Regions from separate parts of the Homo sapiens genome. Here region 2 is linked to region 1. Evidence: fine-mapped expression QTL. A gene starts in region 1. The other region holds a variant in brackets. All regions are shown on one strand. Distances are between the middles of the regions. Region 1 holds the start of NECTIN1 (nectin cell adhesion molecule 1). Region 2 overlaps NECTIN1 (nectin cell adhesion molecule 1).

The links.
Region 2: its variant is fine-mapped to the expression of NECTIN1 in whole blood (TOPMed, PIP 0.95).

Annotation. Positions count from the first base shown.
Region 1 is chr11:119,725,848-119,735,952 of GRCh38, forward strand. It overlaps NECTIN1 (nectin cell adhesion molecule 1), which reads right to left and starts at 3,353. Exons shown (of 6, transcript NM_002855.5): 1 at 2,628-3,353. The coding sequence starts at 2,706. It overlaps NECTIN1-DT (NECTIN1 divergent transcript), which reads left to right and starts at 3,736. Exons shown (of 4, transcript NR_120587.1): 1 at 3,736-3,959; 2 at 7,810-7,903. RefSeq lists enhancers at 935-1,877, 2,677-3,538, 3,539-4,399 and silencers at 2,949-3,268, 3,329-3,738.
Region 2 is chr11:119,673,035-119,681,034 of GRCh38, forward strand. It overlaps NECTIN1 (nectin cell adhesion molecule 1), which reads right to left. Exons shown (of 6, transcript NM_002855.5): 2 at 5,381-5,731; 3 at 4,521-4,823; 4 at 4,068-4,185; 5 at 2,125-2,276. Among named protein-coding and RNA genes, the nearest start is that of NECTIN1-AS1, 33 kb to the right of the region's middle. RefSeq lists enhancers at 545-1,094, 1,115-1,164, 3,685-3,979. The variant G/A (reference allele first, on the strand shown) is at 4,308.

The DNA of each region.
Region 1 (10,105 bases):
GCTCGACACACCTGCTTCTCAAGCAGGTCCTCTGCCTCCTCCTAGGGCTCCCCCTATCTCTTTTTGGGATGTAACCCACCTGCCCCACTGACCCTCTCCTCTAAGTTAACAGGAAGAAACTGTGGATTGTCATCTCAGGAAACAGAGGCCTTTGGGGCTTCACCACACTGCTTAGTAAAGTCTGTGTTGTTGAAAACATACTTCTGTGTTTACACTTCAATAGCCAGATTGGGAGTGTTTTGAAGTTGGGGGCAATCACACACACTCCAGGCCCCTCCCTCTTCCTCTCCTCAAACCCCCAGACCCAGGTTCCCTGTCACAGCCCAGGAAAACCCTGAAAAGAGCATCAGACTGGCAAGTCCCTAGAGAGACGCTATAGCGGGCAATGGGGAGGAAGCCAGCAGGTGATGCAAAGTAGGGTGTGGGCTTGCAACTTCTGGGCCAACCAGCCTCCATCCAAGTGTCAGACTGGGCACAACCATATCCACCTGCCTCCCTGCACCCGTGGACCCTAGAGCAAGCAAGCAGAGAAGGCACCAGGAGCCCAGCCACTGGGCAGAGGAGCTGGGCGGTCCGGGAACTTCGGTGCATGGATGCTACCCATCAGTCAATTACAGTCAATGGAAGAGCATTTATTAAGTACCTCTCTCAACCCTGGTTCCTTTCTCTGCATCCCACCCTTTCATGTAGATTTTTGGCAGGGGTTGTATCCACCTTGAGCCAGGTGAGTTCACCTCCCTGCTCCCACTTCCTGAGTGGGTGGAGCACAGCAGGCCTCTAGCCCCCAATGAAGGAATTAACCATGAAGGAATCACAAAGCTGGGGAAAGAGAATAACAAAAGGAAGGAGAATAGGGTGAGTTCCTTCCCCTTCTCCCAACCCTTCCCACCACCCTTTGTCCATCCCAGGATTACGTTAACCCCTAGTGTGCTGGACCAACCAGAGCTCTGGGAAGCTCTCGTTTCTCTGGGTTCCGGATGTGGACATATGTAATTGAAGGGTTCCTGGAAGCTCAAATCCCCATGGCCAGGCAAGTCCTAGAGCCCGAACTTCTGTATCTCTGGCTGGCTTCCCAGGCCATCCAGTGTGAGAAGACCTCTCACTCTCACCAAGACCACCCTCTGGGGGCAGGGTGGGCAGTGACACCTGTGAGCCCTGGATTTTCCCCACCCCCCACATCGAGCAGGGCAGCACCCCAGGCTTCACGGGTGGAGGCACCCCAGTACTGGCTTTCACAAACTGCTTCCCAGACATCCACCACTTAGTGAGATTGGCGGGGCCCTCGTAGTGAGCTGGCTGGCAGCAGAAGAGGCATAGAAGGGAATGAGGCCAGGCTTCTGCCTTCCAGGAGTGCACCCTAGCCCCGGAACTAGGCAGCCAGACTGTTCCCTCGATAACAAACTGCCTGGCCATTCTGCGGCAAAGCACATTGCAGGAACTCGGGATCTAATATTCCTGCCCCACGAGGAGATGGTCTCTGTACACTGACCCCCTATTCTGCCACCCCAAGGCGGGGACCACGTGCTCCAGTCAAGATCCGCCCCCCTCCCCAAAATCCCATCTTGCTAGAGCTGCAGGTCGTCTCTGGTTTCTACCCAGAGAGCTGGAGGAACTCCCCACACCCCTTGACCCACGCTTGGTGTCCAGTCAGCCGGCGAGCTCGGCAGCTTCCCCAGGGACACAAAGGGTTAAATCCAGGCGAGGGGACTCGGTCGGATTTGCCTCCTAAACGCATTTTCCAGTTCATTCCCCAGCACAATATGCCTGGGCTGGTCCCAGCCTCCGTCCCCACCCCACCCGTCAGAATGGGCCACCAGGGCCACCCCGGGGTCGGGCGCGAGGTTAACCCCTCGGCTGCCGGCAGCCCGCACCTCGAGGAAGGACACGCGGGGCACCCTCGGGAAAGTGGGTCATGCAGCTACTTGGATGGCAGGAAGCCCGCGGTGTCTCCTCCAGGGAGAGCCCCCAGAGCTGGGAGCAGAGTTCCGAGGGGGAGCCCGGTCCCGCGCCAGGCCGGGAGGAGGCTGCCCCGGCCTCACCCTCCAGGAAAGGAACCGCAGGTGAGCGAGGAGCCGCCTCTGCCGCAGCAGCCGACTCTCCGCGCCCGCTGTGGGGCGGTGTGGGGCGGGAGGGGGCCCGAGCGTCCTGAGCCGTCTGGCAAAGGGGCCGCCGAAAGAGACGAAGCCCCCCCGCCATACTCCAAACCCGCAGCTCCGAGACTGACGCCCTCCCCCTGGGGCTGTTGTCTCCCACCCCAAGACGGTGATTACGGTGATTATTTTGCATTTATGTAACACGCAGTGTTTCCAAACTGCTTCCCGAGCAGAGAGCTGGTTATTAAATAAACAGAACGCTATTACATATTATTATTTTTTGTAAAGAACTGAGCGGAGAAAGTGCTTTCATGCTACATAGAGACGTGCATCTGACTGCTTCCCTGCAGGGCAGGCGGTTCGGCTTCTCAACCTCTTTCTCCGCCGTGCCACCTCCCACCCCCTTTACCCAAGCCGTGACCCAACTTTTCTGGCTCCTTTCACTCCCCACAATCCAGTCGTGCCCGCCATCCGGCTCCCAGCCCCGGGGAGGCATTGGATGGGGGTGGGGACAGCAGAGGTGAGCGCTCTTACCTGGGAGGAAGAATGCGGTCAAGCCGAGAGCGAGTCCCCACCAGCGTCCAGCGGCGCCCGCAAGCCCCATCCGAGCCATCGGGGGCCGGGGGTCCGGCGAGAGGGGCGGCGAGGGCAGCGCTCCTCGCGCAGCAGAAACCAGCCCGGAAGATGAGGGAAGATCGCTGGCGGTCGGCGGGCGCTCGAAGGATCCAGGTCAGCTGCAGCCGTCGGCCGGGGCGGGGTGGGCTGGGTGGGATCCGCGCGGCCGCAGTCCGGGCCCCGGGCCGCCGCCGGCTCAGAGGCTCGGCAGATGCCCGCCGCAAGTTGCACGAGTCATGCCCCTTCGCCTCCTCCGCTCTCCTCCCGGCGCCGGTCCCCGCCCTCTTCTTCCACGCAGAGCGGGGCTGGGGAGAGGGACCCACCCCCGGCGCGCCCGGCTGCCCGGTTGCGCGGCGCGGGCTCCTGGCCCCGGCCCGCTCACACCCTCCCGCTCGGCTCCAACTTGCAGGCGTCCATGGCCGGCCGTCCTCCGAGGGTGGCGGGACGCACCCGGGCGGCGCAGAAGGCTCGGGGCCCAGGCGGCGGGCGCGGGGCTCGGCGGTCGGCGGCCCGGGTGGCTCTGGCTGCGCGGCCGGGCGCGAGGAGAACGGGTCGGAGGCGCCGCGCGTCCCAGCCGCCGCCGCTCTGCCGGGTGCCGGCGATCCGCAACAATGTGGAGCCGCGCTCGCTGCTCTCGCTCTCTTTCTCTCACTCGCCGAGCTCCAGCCTCTCACCCGCTCGCCCGTGATGTCAGCCAGAGGGGAGGGGTTAGCGTTAACCCCCTCCTGGCCTCGATGCGCGCCCGCCGGGGCCCGGTCGGAGCCCGAGCGCACGCGCCTTCCCGACCGAAGCAGAGGCGGATCGCGAGCGCGGGCTGCGGGGTCCGGCTCAGGACCCTCGCTCGGGAGCTACCCCTCGGCCGCCTTCCAGCTGGGGAGCCGGCTGGAGCGCGGGCTGCCCTCCTCCTCCGCTGACAAAGGCAGGCAGTGACCCCTAGCGGCCGGCGGCGCCGAGGCGCGGCGGGTGGGGGTGGAGTTAGGACCGGGCCGGGGGCGGCGGTGGAGGAGAGGGCGGGATGGAGAATCCCGGCTAGCAGCGTGGGAGCTGGCAGGGCTTCTGCAAGCCCTCTGCTCCCACCCTGGCCCCATTTCACAGACGAGGAAACAAAGGCCCAAAGAAGAGTTCCGCCCGGGACGGAACGTGGCATAGCTCGCAACAGAACCCAGTCTCCGGAGATCCCTCTCCTCTGCACCACTTGGACGTTCCACGGAGAGGCAGCGGTGCGCGGGGCGACGGGGAGCTGCCAGAGAAGTCAGTGGTGGGCATGAGTGGGTGAGACGGGCCCACTGAGGTTTCTGGTAGAGTTTCTTTTCTAATCCCTGCTCCCTTCGGGGGTTCCTTTTCCAAAAATTGAAGCACCCCGCGCCCCGCCCTTGCCCAAACATAGCCTGAAAACGAGCTCTCCTCCAGTTTCCAGGACCTTAGTTTTGAGAGATTTGTGGGATTCCCGCGAAAGTGGATCGTCCAGTCAGTGTCCCTGGCAGGGCAGGGACTCTCCGCCCCATCCCGTTCACCACCCACTACATCCGGGTGTGGTAGGATTTCTGCCAAGGCGACTGCGCCCTCCGGGCCTTCCCTCTTCCCCTTACTCTGGTCCTCCTATCCCCATCCCCTCCCCCTGGGGGAGGAAGACAGACAGAGTTTCCCACTAAGGAGAGCCGAATTCTCCCCAGACCCTGGCCGGACACTGCTCCCTCTACCCTTTGCCCAGCCCTCTAGGCGGGCAGGAGCAGAGGGGAAGTGGCTGTTTCTGATAACACGTAAATTCTGGTTCCTCACTGGAGAAGGGGCAAAGACAGCGCCATATTCCCACTGTCTGGAATCCGGCCCTGGAGTGTCTCGGTTTCTCGCGGAAGTAGTCAGATCTGGCATTGTCATGAACACTCACCCACTCACTGTATGGTCTTTTACATTTAACAAATGTAACCTGGGCTTTCTTTGTGTCAAAACACAGTGCCTGGCTTGGGGATACAGAGACATCATCATTGTCCTGAAGGAACTCAATCTAGTTGAAGGGTGGGGGAAGACAGACATAGAAACGGATGTCGTAAACAAATATTTAATATGGGATTGTGTGGGTTTGGTGGGTCACAGAAAAAGTGCCCAGTTTAGCCCGGGGTGGGGTTGGTGTAAAGGCTTCAGGGAAGCGAACACAGGGTCTCGGTGAGTCATCTATCAGACCAAGGTAAGTGCTGGAGGGCAGAGACATAAAAGAGACTGGATTTAAGGTAGAGGGTCAGCACGAGCAAAGGAATGAAGGTAAGCAATAGTCAGGTGAGTAGGGGGCCCACAAAGGGTTGACTGGTTTAGCCTGAGCCTAAGACTTGAGGAAAGGAGAGGTCTGCAGATTCGTGAATCATGCCCGGTAGCTGCTAGGAGGGTTTTAAACTGGGGAACACGCTATCAGATTTAGTTTGTGGCAGCTGGGAATCTCCCATCTGGCTGCTGAGTGCTTTAAGGGCCAGGGTTGAATTGAATTCATTGTGATGGCCTTTAGCTCTGTGCCAGGCACACTGCAGGAGCTGAAGGCATGGTTTGAAGGGGCAATCCCAGATGTACCAATGTCTTCTTGTTCCCTGCTCTTACCCTCCCATCCTCTCCATCTTTATTTTATTTTATTTTATTTTATTTTATTTATTTTATTTTATTTTATTTTATTTTAATTTAATTTAATTTTATTTTATTTTATTTCATTGAGACAGAGTCTTGCTCTGTTGCCCAGGCTGGAGTGCAGTGGCGCCATCTCACCTCACTGCAACCTCTGTCTCCCAGGTTCAAGTGTTTCTCCTGTCTCAGCCTCCCGAGTAGCTGGAATTACAGGTGTGTGCCACCACGCCCGGCTAATTTTTGTATTTTTAGTAGAGACGGGGTTTCTCCATGTTGGCCAGGCTGGTCTGGAACTCCTGACCTCAGGTGACCTGCCCTCCTTGGTGTCCCAAAGTGCTGGGATTACAGGCATGAGCCACTGTACCCGGCTGCACTCTCTCCATCTTTAGGTCAGGCTTCTTTGATCCTCTGATCTTAAATGAGCTTCCAAAGAGGGTGCGGCCAGCAGGGAAGATGTGGCTGCCTGGGGATTGGTTGGGTGGAGAAGATGGAAGCAAGTAAGTGATATAGTATGGTTGTTCACTCATCATCTTTAAACAAGCAGGGAAGGTTGCTGGGGGAGGGGACATTTAACTGAGACCCTGAAGGACAGATCAGATTTGGACCAAAAGAGGCAGGAGAGAGACTCCTAAGTGGAAGGAACAGCTTGTACAAGAACATGGAGGTGCGTGGAGGTGGGAGAGGTGCCACCTGTGTTAGGACAGTAGGCATTCCAGTTTGTTTTGCGTTTTAGAGATGTATAAGAGAAAGGGACAGGTAGGCGCAAACAGAAGGCAAAAGGACCAGAAGGTTTCCTTTAGTGACAGGGAAGAAACACAGGATCAAGCAGCAGGAAAGCAGGCTTTGGTTCCTGCTCTTAAGCTGTGAGCCCAGGAGTCACTCTTGCTTCTTACCTCTTCCTGAACCACCATGTTCCAATTTTGTTGATTCTGCCCCTGAGATATATATATATATATATATCCTTTATATATATATATATAGTCTAGTGACATTGATATGCCCCTGATATGCCCCTGAGATATATATATATATCCTTTATATATATATATCCTTTATATATATATATTCTTTATATATATATATATAAAGTCTAGTGACATTGCTCCATTTCTCCTGTTATTAATCTAGTCCATGCACTCATGATTTCTACCTGGTCTTTACAATACTTTCTGACAGTATAGCCAGTCTGCACTGAGATGGGGAGTAAAATGTAACAGTCCAGCACATGGAACTCTGGAGAGCTAATCTGCCTGGATTGGAATTCTTAAACTCCAGCTCTGACACCCAATAGCTATGTGTCCTTGGGCAAGTGACTTAACTTCTCTGTGCTCAGGTACCTTCTCTGTAAAACAGGGAGAAATAAGAGCACCTACCTCTTGAAGTTGTGAGGATTAAATGAGCCTTGAGCCAAACATGTGAAGTGCATGGAACAATGCCTGGTGTACAGTAAAAACTGTCTAAGTATTAGTCATCATTATTATTGTCATCTGTCTCTCCACATCCAGTTTTCCCCTTCCTGAAAATGGTTTATATATATTTTACAAGCTTTATTTTGAAATAATTTTGGATTTGCAATAGAGTTGTGAAAATGGTACAGAGTTTTCATATGCCCTTCATTCATCTTCCCTGAATGTTAACATCTTATAGAACCATGGTACATCTATCAAAACTAAGAAATTAGTGTTAGTATAATACTATTAACTGAACTACAGAATTTATTCAGATTTCCCCAGGTTTTTTCCCACTAATGTCTATTTTTTGTTCCACAATTTAATCCAGGATACAACATTACATTTAGTAGTGGATTATTTTCAAATGCAGATGGTCAAGTTGCAATGCCCAGGAACAATTTCTTGGCCTGCCAGACTCTTAGACCAGTGTCAAGTCCTCAACAAGGCCTAAGGGGCCCATGCCTGCTTCTGCAGCCTCATCTCACCCTGCTCTGAGGCTTCAAGGAGGAGCCACTGGGATTTCCAATCATCCCCTGCTATAGACTTTGCATACTTGGGACCACTTTCGTGATGGTTTATAGTGCCTGATTCACTCCCCATTAGACTGTCAGCTCCTCCAGGGCAGGGATCATGTTGCTGTTGTTCTCTGCTATATCTCTGGCACCTAGAACATGCCTGGTACCTGATAGGCTTGTAATGAAAATGTGTTGATTAACTCACATCCTGTGCCACTTTCTGCCAATCACTTCCCCTCTCTGGACCTCAGTTTTCTCATCTGCAGACTGAGGAGTTTAATTTGTTCACTGGTTTTCCAGTTGTGTTTTGGAAACCCTAGAATTTCCTGGGCTCAACAGGAGCCACATTTAAAGAGCATGTGTTTTCATGTGCTTGAAAATTGGGCTTTTGAGAAAGATATCTCTTAATGGATTTTGAAGATTCTGCTGCTTAAAAAGGTTTGAAAACGTGACAGATTATTGTATATTATGAATTACATATAGTTGCATGATTTTACAACTCCATTATTTATTTATTTATTTTTGCAGGCAGTGGGGAGCCATGGAAAGTTTCTGAACAGAGAAGCACTTATTGGGAACTGTCAGAGCTATGCTTCAGGAGATGAATCTGGCAACAACGTGGGTAGGATGGACAGATGATGATTGGTCAGTGAAGGAGGAGGGGAGTGAGGAGAGAGGGTTGTCATGGAAGCCAAGTGAGAAGAGGATTTAATAGAGGAGGTGGAGGAGGTTGCTAACAGTGTCTGATGCTGCAGAAAGCAGGTGGGGATCAGAAGGGGTCTTTGGAAGCAGTGGCAAAACCACCAGTGACCTTTGAGAGAGGGATGTTGGTGACTAGGCAGGGGCTGAACCCAGATCAAAGTGGGAGGAGGAGCAACTGGAAGGTGAAAAAGCAGAGGCAGCAGGTATCCTCTCTGCTTTTGAGAAGTTTGGTGGCGGACGGAATGAGCAAGGTGGATGAGAAGCTCGGAGAGGGTTAGCAAGACAGACCAAGAGGCTTATTTTCTCCTTTTTCATCGGAAATCAAAAGCTACTGAGCATCTTGTAGTCAGAAGGAAAAGAGCTAGTGGACAGTGAGGGAGTGGAGAAGCAAGTGTAAGAAGTGAAATAGGGTGTCATTTATGGAGCAAGTCCTGGGTTGGGGGGCACTGAGGGTGGGAAGGGGTCAGCCTTGGAAAGGAGAAGACCCATCTTTCTCTGAGCCTGGAGGGAAGGTGAAGAGAGTAGTGAAGGTGGAAGTTTTGGGGTGGAGTAGTGAAGGGGGAAGTTTATAATAAGGTCATTGCAGTACAGTGGGAGCTGAAGTTATCTGCAGAGAGAGGTTGGAAAGCGGCTTCAGACTTCACAATTGAGAAGGCCAAAGGGAGTGTTAAGTGGGGTATGACTACCAAGCTTCCAAAATCTATAGGGAGAAAGGAGCAAGCATCATCTGTGTGTCTTCATAGGGAAAAGTCAGGACCAATGGTCATATTTTTGGGGGAGGTAGATTTCAGTTTAATCTAGGCAAGACTGTTGAGGGATCTTAGTTGACCGACAATGGATTGACCTCCCAGTCACTTTTCAGACTCAGGCTGCAAGCCCGTTCATCAGGCATGCTGTGCATGGGCTTCTTGCCCTGGCATGGAGCATGGATGCAATGAGTTCCATGTTCCCTCCTGGCCCTGAGACTTGATAACTGCAGGAATGACAGCCCACTTGAAGAGCAGGCAGTTGGGCTCACCTTTCTCACCCACCTCAGGACTGGAGGCATGAGGTGGGGAGACTAGACGAGATCAGCCCTGGGGAACGTACCATCCCTAGGAAACTCTCCTCTGAGCCCTCCCTTGACTTCCACAGGTTCTTTCAGAGAGGCAGCTGTTGGGCTTGGAAAAGGCCCAAAGTCAATACAGTAATGACTTCCCCTCCTGGTCATATCCCAGGCCCCTCTGTGTCATTCAGAAATTGGCTAATAAAGTTCACTTTGATGTGAGAGGAGCCCTATTAAGAATTCCCCAAGATTCCCCAATCCCCTGAAATCTGTCAATAGGAGAAGATATGTTGGAGTGGCATGCTGGATGGGGGTCACCCCCTTTTGTGTCCCCAGTCCTTACCCTGGTGTCAGTTGAGGCTGAGAGCAAGGGGAGAGGAAAGGAGGAGGAATCCCATGAAGAAAGTATGGCTGAAGCCTTAGCCAACCCCAAAGAGGACCCAGCTGGCATGGCTACCCTCTTGCCCTAACCTGAGGCCAACCTCACCTCAGGCAGTGCTCCCAGGGTAGATGGGAAGCCACAGCACCTAATTACTATGGTCATCACGCTGGTGGCTGTGGTGATTATGATGGTGCCTCTGTATCCCACAGCGCTTAGCAACATTTAATTACTGTTATTCCTATGGAGATCACTGCAGAGTCTTGGCTGCCATTGCTCTTGGGGATGGAGCAACTACACACAGCTGCACCCACTCCCCAGTCCAATGATCCACTGTGTTGAAGTGCTGCCAGGATGGTTAACAGACACCAGCCTCTCCCTTGTGGGCCATGGTGTCCCAGCGATCTGCATGGCTTTTGGGGCTGAGCTCTGAGAGGTGATAGGAAGGCCCAAGTTCCATCTTGAACCATCTAACTCTCCAGAAAGAAGGGAAATTGTTCTATGCCTTGTGTCTGGTCAGAAGGCCCTCAGTATACTTCTGTGAATCATGACGTCCCAAATCCTAAAGAATTCTGGTTGTGAGTAGAGGCGGCACTCCTGATTAGGGATGGGAGCACTTAAAACTCAACGGTGATACTGAGAAGAGGGTTTCATCCAGGATCCGCATAGACCGGAGAGCTTAGGTCATGAAGATGGGA
Region 2 (8,000 bases), 54 kb before region 1:
AAAATTAAATTTCCACTTATCCCTCTCGCTCATGCATTCCCTCTGGACCAGTGGGGCTTAGAGCAAGGGCATGGCTGTGCCCTGCGGGGTGGGCTCCCCAGAGAATGTGGCAGGCACGGGCCGACGTGGAATGGAGGGTGGTGAGGTCAGCTGCTGCTTGGAAATTGCCTGAGAGCACAAGAACAAACAGCCCTGAGAAGGCTCAGGCCAACTCCCTGAGTCCTCTGGAGGGGGCTGAGAGTCCCTTCCGAGAGAGGCCAGCCGCTCAGCGCCTGGGCCTATCAATGATTCAGTGAGTGCCATGCGTCCCTGGCTCCTGCCTAACGGGGCTGCCAGCAAGAGCCATGTTGTGTCCCTCTTCCAGCTGGGACCCTAGGTGGCCCGGCCCTCCTGCCCCCAGCCCACACCCCTCACATGTTGATAGCCCACCATCAGGGGAAGGTATCACCACGCAGGGAGTACTGCATGATCGTAAGAAGCCTGAGACAAGTGTGAGTATCCCCATATCAGAGGTTAGGAAGCCAAGGCTCAGAGAGGTGAAGCACTTGCTCAAGGCCACACAGCTAGGAAGAGCCAGTGTGTGAACACTCAGGCCAGGTCTGTGCTGTCTCCCATGTGACAGTGCCTCCCTGAGGGGTGGTCATGTTCCCTATGGCCACTCCACATGGAACACAGGCCCTGCCCTTCCCACCTCCCCCTTGACTCCCCCAGTATCTCAGAGCTGGAGCTTGGGTAACCATGAGGCTCATTTTGAGCTGTACTTGGACCTTCCCCGCTGGGGAGAAGTGTGTGACACCGGCCCCTTCCACCTGCCAACCCGTGGAAACCCCCCAGCTTTCCCCAGGCTCCAACCCTGATGCTCCTCCTCCTATGACTAGTCTCGGGGCCAAGGCCAGGGATTGCAGACAACAGCAGGTGGCTCCACACTCCCGCCCCTGGGTGAGAGACGTGACAGAACGGCTCTGAGGACAGGTAGGCGCAGACCCTGGACAACTTCACGTGGCTCTTTCTGCAGCTGTGTCCTAAATATACCCACAAATGAGGTCTCCCACTCCCGAGACACTGGCTCAGAGCTCATGAATCCTCGTGGCTTGCAGGTGTGCAGTGGCTTTGTGGCCGGAGCCCAGCAACTGCCGACCAGTCTTCTGTGTCCCTGAGCATGTTACTTCCTATATCTCAGTCACAGTGGGACACCACTTCCTTTTTTAAGACACTCGGTCACCCTGTCACCCTGCAGATAGCTCAGGTCCACTGTAAAAGACGCTCCCCATGTGAAGTTGTGATGGCAGTTTACCCCTGTGTGGACTTGTTTTGATGCTTCCATTAATAATAATGATGATGATGGAGGTCAGGGTAATAATCACGGAACATTGGCCATTTATTGACAGACTGATCTGTGCTAGGTGCTTGACTTACATCACGTAGAATTCTGACAACAGCCCTTCAAGGTACATCATACTGTCCCCGTTTTACAGATGGTGGGGGGGGCCCTGTCCAGGGTCACAGCTGTCTGACATCAAGCCCATGCTCCTTTCACGTCCCAGGTGAAGTCTCTCCTCAGAACATCCTAGCTCTTGTCCTCCCTTTGCCCGGATAGATAAGTTGACAGAAAGCTGCAGGGAAAGCTCAGTTGCAGGGCACACAAAGCACTATGGCTTTGGGCTACATCTTCGCTTTCTCTCCAGTCTCCCTGCTTGAGGTAAGCCTCACTTTCTGGCCCATGAAGAGGTCCTTGACCACAGGTGCAGAGCTTGGAGGAGATGAGCTCCACCTGCAAACCTATCCCCACCATGCCAGCATCCCACAGCGTGTTCTGCTGGCAGATCTACGGGCAGGTTCTATTGGCCCCCAAAACAGCATTGCTGTAAACAGCACTTCCTTCTTCCCTCTCAGAGCCTTCCTCCTGCCCCTCTCTGATTGGGGGTCACCCTGACTGTCTCATTTGCACCCTTTAATGAAAGAAAGAGAAAAGCAAAGCAAAACCAATGGCCAGAGCTCAAGGGAGAACTAGAGAAGCAGGAAAAGGAGATAATCTTCCTGCAGTGGCATTGCTCAAAGGTGAGGGATGCAGGTGGCGAAGGAACCCGTGGGTGCGGAGAGGCTGGGGAGGATGCAGCTTCCTACCTGTGATATTGACCTCCACCTGGCCTGAGCGTGTACCGATGGGGTTGGTGGCCTCACAGATGTAGGTCCCTGCCAGGCTGTAGTTGATGGGTCCCTTGAAGAAGAGGGTTCTGTTCTGGGCCTCCACACCCTTGGGGAGAGAGCCATTTAGCCTGTGGGAAGTGGGAGACACAGCGTAGGGTTATGACTCTCCAGCCTCAAGAAGCTGTTCCTGGGTCACCCACTTGGCTCCAGGCCCCCTAGCCTTTTGCTGAGCTTGTGTGGTAGAGTCTGTCTTTGAAGGAAGAAAAATAATAATAATAATCTCTTTCACTTGGTAGTTTTATATTATTCAGCTTTTCATATTTGATCATAATATGGGAATATAGGCAGGCTAGGTAGGTGCCGGTCCCCCTTAACAGATGAAACCTGAGGTTCAAGGCCAGGGAACCACAGCTAGCAGGCAGCAGCATGGGAGCTCCAGCCAATTCTCGGGACTCCTGGTAAAGTGCTCTTTCTACTTTCCATTCACGTCTCATGGTTGTTGGTCCTTGGTCTCCTGGGCAGCTGGTTAATAATACAGATGCCAGCCAGGTGTGGTGGCTCACGCCTGTAATCCCAGCACTTTGGGAGGCCGAGGCAGGCAGATCACATGGTCAGGAGTTTGAGACCAGCTTGGCCAATATGGTGAAACCCCATCTCTACTAAAAGTACAAAAATTAGCTGGGTGTGGTGGTGCACGCCTGTAGTCCCAGTTACTCGGGAGGGTGAGGCAGAAGAACTGCTTGAACCTGGGAGGCGGAGGTTGCAGTGAGCCAAGATTGCGCCATTGCACTCCAGCCTGGGTGACAGAGTGAAAATCCGTCTCAAAGAAAAAAAAAAAAATAATAATACAGATGCCTTGGTTCTAACCCCAGATCTCCTGAAGCAGAACCACTGGGGCAAAGACCTGGGAATCTGTATTTGACAAGCCACTCAGGTAACGAGATAGGAAGTATGTTCCATTCCACTACTTTGTGTTTTTGCTGGGAATGTCACAGGACCTTTTCATGTGGGAAGTGACTTGCAAATTTGCCAAGGACAAAGGATCTTCTTCCTTCCTCCTGACCCTCAAAGGCCACAAAGCTATTCTGTTGAACCTAGCAGCTCCTGGGTCCACAGAGCTGAAACCAGCCAGCAGGCTCTGCCCACTCACACCTTCAGAAGCACTTTTTATTCCAGGAAGTGGAGGATCATAGGTAGGGCATACCAGTGCCCTCTGCTCCCCAGAAAAAGAAGGCAGACTCCTTCTGGGCAGCTGTCTCCTGGCCACCCATATCAACCTTCTCCTTGGTTCCCCACGTCCCTGTCTTTCTGTGTGTTCCATCCAGCTCTTCTCTGGGAAGAGCCTTGGCCCCAGCTGTCAGAGCCGGCTGGAGGGGAGAAGGCGAAGGCAAGGCAAGGCGAAGACCGTGAGGCCAAGAAGGGGATGGTGGGCCGCAGGGCACGTGCTCCATGAGCACAGGCATTCTAGGCTGGCTGCTGCCTCCTCCCCAAGAATCTGGGGGTGCCAGAGAGAAGGAATAGGGACAAAGAAAGAGCTGAGATGCTCCAGAACACTGGCTTCCCTGGGGACACCTTGATAAAAATAAATACTGGGGGGTTGGGGTGGGAGTGACTCAGACTGAATCACCAAAGGAAAACGACAAAACTCTTTATTAGGAAGAGGGAGGGAAGCAGATCACAAAGGAAACCCCTCTGGCAGAATAGCTTGTTCCATTGACCTTGACACTGTCACACATGGACGTAATGTATATGTGTGTGTTGGGGGTGGGGGTTGTTCTCTCATGGCCCCGCTTCTTACTGAGCCCAGACCCTAATTTCTTCCCTGCCTAAAGGCTCCTGGAGGTAGGATGGTTGCCCCTCATCACCCGTGGTCCAGTCAGCTGTCTTCCAAGGTGACTGGTCAGCCCTGCAGCACTTACGTGGTCCAGTGGTACTCAGTGGCTGGGGGGTTAGCATCAGCTTTGCAGGTGAGCTTCACGTCCATCCGCTGCAGGTACCAGTTGCCATCAAACCCCTCAATGGTTACCTCAGGCTCATCTGTGGGGCAAGGGATGTTTGAAGAGGGTGAGGTCAGGAGAGCGGGACTTAGAACAAGGGAACTTCAGCCAGGAAGGGATGGAAGGAGCAGTGGCATGGAAACAGCCAGGAGAGAGGGAAGT[G/A]TGGGTGGGAGGGTGGCAATCACAGAGCCCGGGAGTGGAAACAGGAGGGCGACAGGGAAGGAGGAGAGAAAACGAGCAAAGGGAGGAGATAGGGGAGACAGGAGGGGAGAAGAAAGCACCCCCAGAAAGAGAAAGGGAGGAGAAAGGAGAGGAGGAGGGAGGAGGGACAGTGGCGCCCACCCCAGGAGGCCCCTGGCAGCCAGCCCTGCTCACACTGCACGTTGAGAGTGAGGCTTTCCTTGAAGCGGTCCATGTGGTAGTTGACGATGCAGGCCAAGGACTGCTGGTGGGCTTCCCTGCTGGGCACCAGGCGGTAGCGGCTGATGACCGTCACTGTGCCATTGGGGTTCCGGATCTCCTGGTACTCTGCCTCACCTTTTAACCGAGTTTCCCAGGATACCACACTGGGAGGCTTCCCATTGGCTGAGGTGCAGGTGGCCACCAGGACCTTGTCATCCTGCCCCTTCTTGGCTCGAAGCACTGCCTGGGTACCCTCTATCCAATTGGTGGGTTTGGCTGCGAGGAAGCAGAGAGAGTGATGGGACTAGCCCTGTTGACTTGTCCAAGATGCACCGGCCAAAAGGGCGTGGCATCCGTCAGGCCTTGTCTTCAGGTCCCCTTGGCCATCCCTGCCTCTCAGCTGTGCTGCACCAAAGACTGTCCCAGAACCTCTTGCAGGAAGTTCATCATGTCTAACGTTATGTCCTCCCTGCCCTACTAGTCATATCCCTGTCATCGAGCTTAGGCCTCCTGGAGTCCCAGCATGTCTAAGGCAAGCAGCGCAGGTGGCTCCTTTCCTTACCGTGGTGTCTGATGCTGCTGCCAGCACAGTGCCTTGTGGGCTTCAACCTGAAGAATCACGTTCCCCACTGTCTAGAGATAAGCCCCTGCCCCTAATCCCTAGTGAATTGTGGGGTGGCCTGGCTAGAAGGGACTGGAAGCCTCATGCCTAGAATGATGGCAGCATGCCCACCCAAGGGGGATGTCTGGGGTCATTGAGGCATCCTGAGGATGGCCACGCCCCGAGGTCACAGGCCTCTGGATGAACAGGGAGGGGGCCCAGGGCAGCTTACCCATCACCGTGAGATTGAGCTGGCTTTCTCGATTGCCCGTAGGGAAGGTAGCAAACTCGCAGATGTAGACACCCTCATCCTCCAGCTCCAGGCGGGAGAGGCGGATAGTGCCATCGGTGAAGGAGGGCCGCAGGAATTCCACACGCTCGCGGTAGGGAGCCAGCACGGACACGCCCATGGATGGGTTGTAGATGGCCACGTTCTGCTTGGAGCCATTGGTGGACTTCTGCCATGTGACCTGGGTGATCTTCACGCTGGGAAGCGGGTTGGCAAAGCTGCAGTGCAGAACCACGTCTGTGCCGATGAAGCCATACATGGAGTCGTTCACCTGGACCACCTGGGAGTGGACGCCTGGCCAGGAGGATGGCAGCAAGTGGTCAGTGTCAGGCACAGCCTCCCCCCACCCACACAGTTCCCTGTGCTCTGGCCTTGTCTTTTATAGCAGTCATTATTGTTTTTATTCCGATTGTAAAAATATTAATTACTTGTTATAAAAACACTCTAGGCAACACTGAAAAATCATGAGAAGAAAGTGACAACATCCCATGATCCTTCCGCTCAGGATAATCTTGAAGGATCTATCTCCTTTTACTTTATATCTGTGTATATCCACATAACCATCTATCTATTTTAAAAAGTCAGAATCATGCTGTACATATTATCCCATAAGCTGCTTTTTTACTTAGGGATAGATTATAAACATCACTCTGTGTTAGTAAACATACGTCTGCACCCTCATTTTTGGTTGCTTTTCGAGCAGAGCCCCAGCCTAGGAGCCATGCACTGGCTGCTTTGTCTTCCTGGGCCTTGGTTTCCTCCTCTGTTATATGGGGTGGAGAATCCAGTCCTCTCTACCTCACGAGGTTACTGGGGGAAACAAATGGCGTGATGGACGAGAAGGTGCGTCAGAGGCAGGAGGCTCTGGATGAGCTTGAAGGCCCACGGTGGCTGTCATCATGGCCACCCCTGCTGTCTTCTCCCTCGCAGCTGAGTCCCCATCCCCTGGGGTGCACTAGCTGGGCCCCTCTTACCCAGCTAGGCAGAGGGAAGTGGGCACTGCATAAGGCCAGGCCTCCGCTGGCTCCCCATGGCCTTCACAGCCAAATGTAAATGCCTTCTCTTGGCAAGACCTCCTTGCACCTGCCTCTTGTCCACATCTCTCCATCAGCCACACTTTCCCACCATACCAGACTGGGCCCATCCTCAGAACATGCCACATTCCCGGTTTCCTTCCCTCTTCCTCCCATTTATTCAGCCACGATTTGCCGAGTGACATATTCCAGGATCTAGTGTGAGCATTTGGGTCATATCAAGGAGCAATTGAGTCCCGGCCTCCATGGAGCACAGAGCCTATCCACCCAACACTCCTAGACTCTTACCCAGGCAGCTCCCTCCACCTAGATGGCCCTTCCCCTTCTCCACCTGTGGATGGCCCCCTGAGGCCACCTCCTCCTGGGAGCTTCCCTGATCTTCCCCACCAGAGCTAACCTGGCCACCTCTACCTTGGTTCTTTCCTGCCTTGGAAGGTGGTGGTTACACATCTGATTTCTCCACCAGACTGTGAACTCCTCCAAGGGCAGGGTCTGTCCTTTCCATCTCTGTATCCCCAGTGCCCAGTGCAGCATCTGGCACATAGCAGATGCTAGTAAATATTTGTTACTACACAAATTGCAATGGAAGTCAAGAGAGCAGACATTTGCAAGAAGGAGGGAGTGAAATTCCCTCCAGTCTCCACATGGGTTGTGTTATCCCCTTTAGAATGTCCTTTTTTTGGGCTTCCTTACCCCTGAACTTGGCTCAGCTCCCTTAACGTGGGGCGGTTGTCCTCAGCACTAGGCTGTACACTCCAGCTCTCTCCTGAGTCCTGCAACTCCCCACAAGCCGTGTCCTTGCTGTCATTTGTATACTTCATGTCTTTGTATCCTTACTTCACTCACTTTATTGAGCGTCATCAATAGCATTAATAACACCAGGACCTGTACTGACCCAAGGCAGGGGGAGGATCTAAATGACCCCCCAAGGGAGTCTGGGATCCAAGAGTGGGAATTTGGGGCTTATGCTCACTCACCTCCTCAGCGTGACGGGGATATTGTAGCAACACAGGCTCCTCTGAGGGCCCCAAAACCCATGGTCAGTGCAGTAAGTTGCTCCCCTCTCTTCCGCTCGAGAGGCCACAGGCCAGGTCTCTAGGTCACTGCAGTATCCCTGGTGCTCAGCATAAAGTAGCTACTCAAGAAATGCTTGCTGAATAAGTCTATCTTTGGCTTCACCAAGCCAGGCCCTACCGTGTTCTGAAAGTTTCCCTGAGGTTCCCCCTTCTCTGTGCTGATTCACATCCACACAGCCCTCAAGGTCCATCAGGCCTATCCCCACCCTCACTCCTCCAGCTGTTCCCTCTGCCAGCCTGTGGGGTGCTTCGGAGCTGATGCTCCCTGGGCAGAGGCCCCATGGGTTGGGAATACGATGGGAGAAGTATCCAGCCACGAGTTGGGAAGGCTGGGCTGTAGCCTGCCTCTGCCTTTAGCAGGCAGTGGGACCGTGGCCAGTCACCTCCCCTTTCTGAGCCCTAGCTTCCTCCTCTGTAAGGCAGCAGACTGGCCTCCCGAGTCCCAGTGGTCCT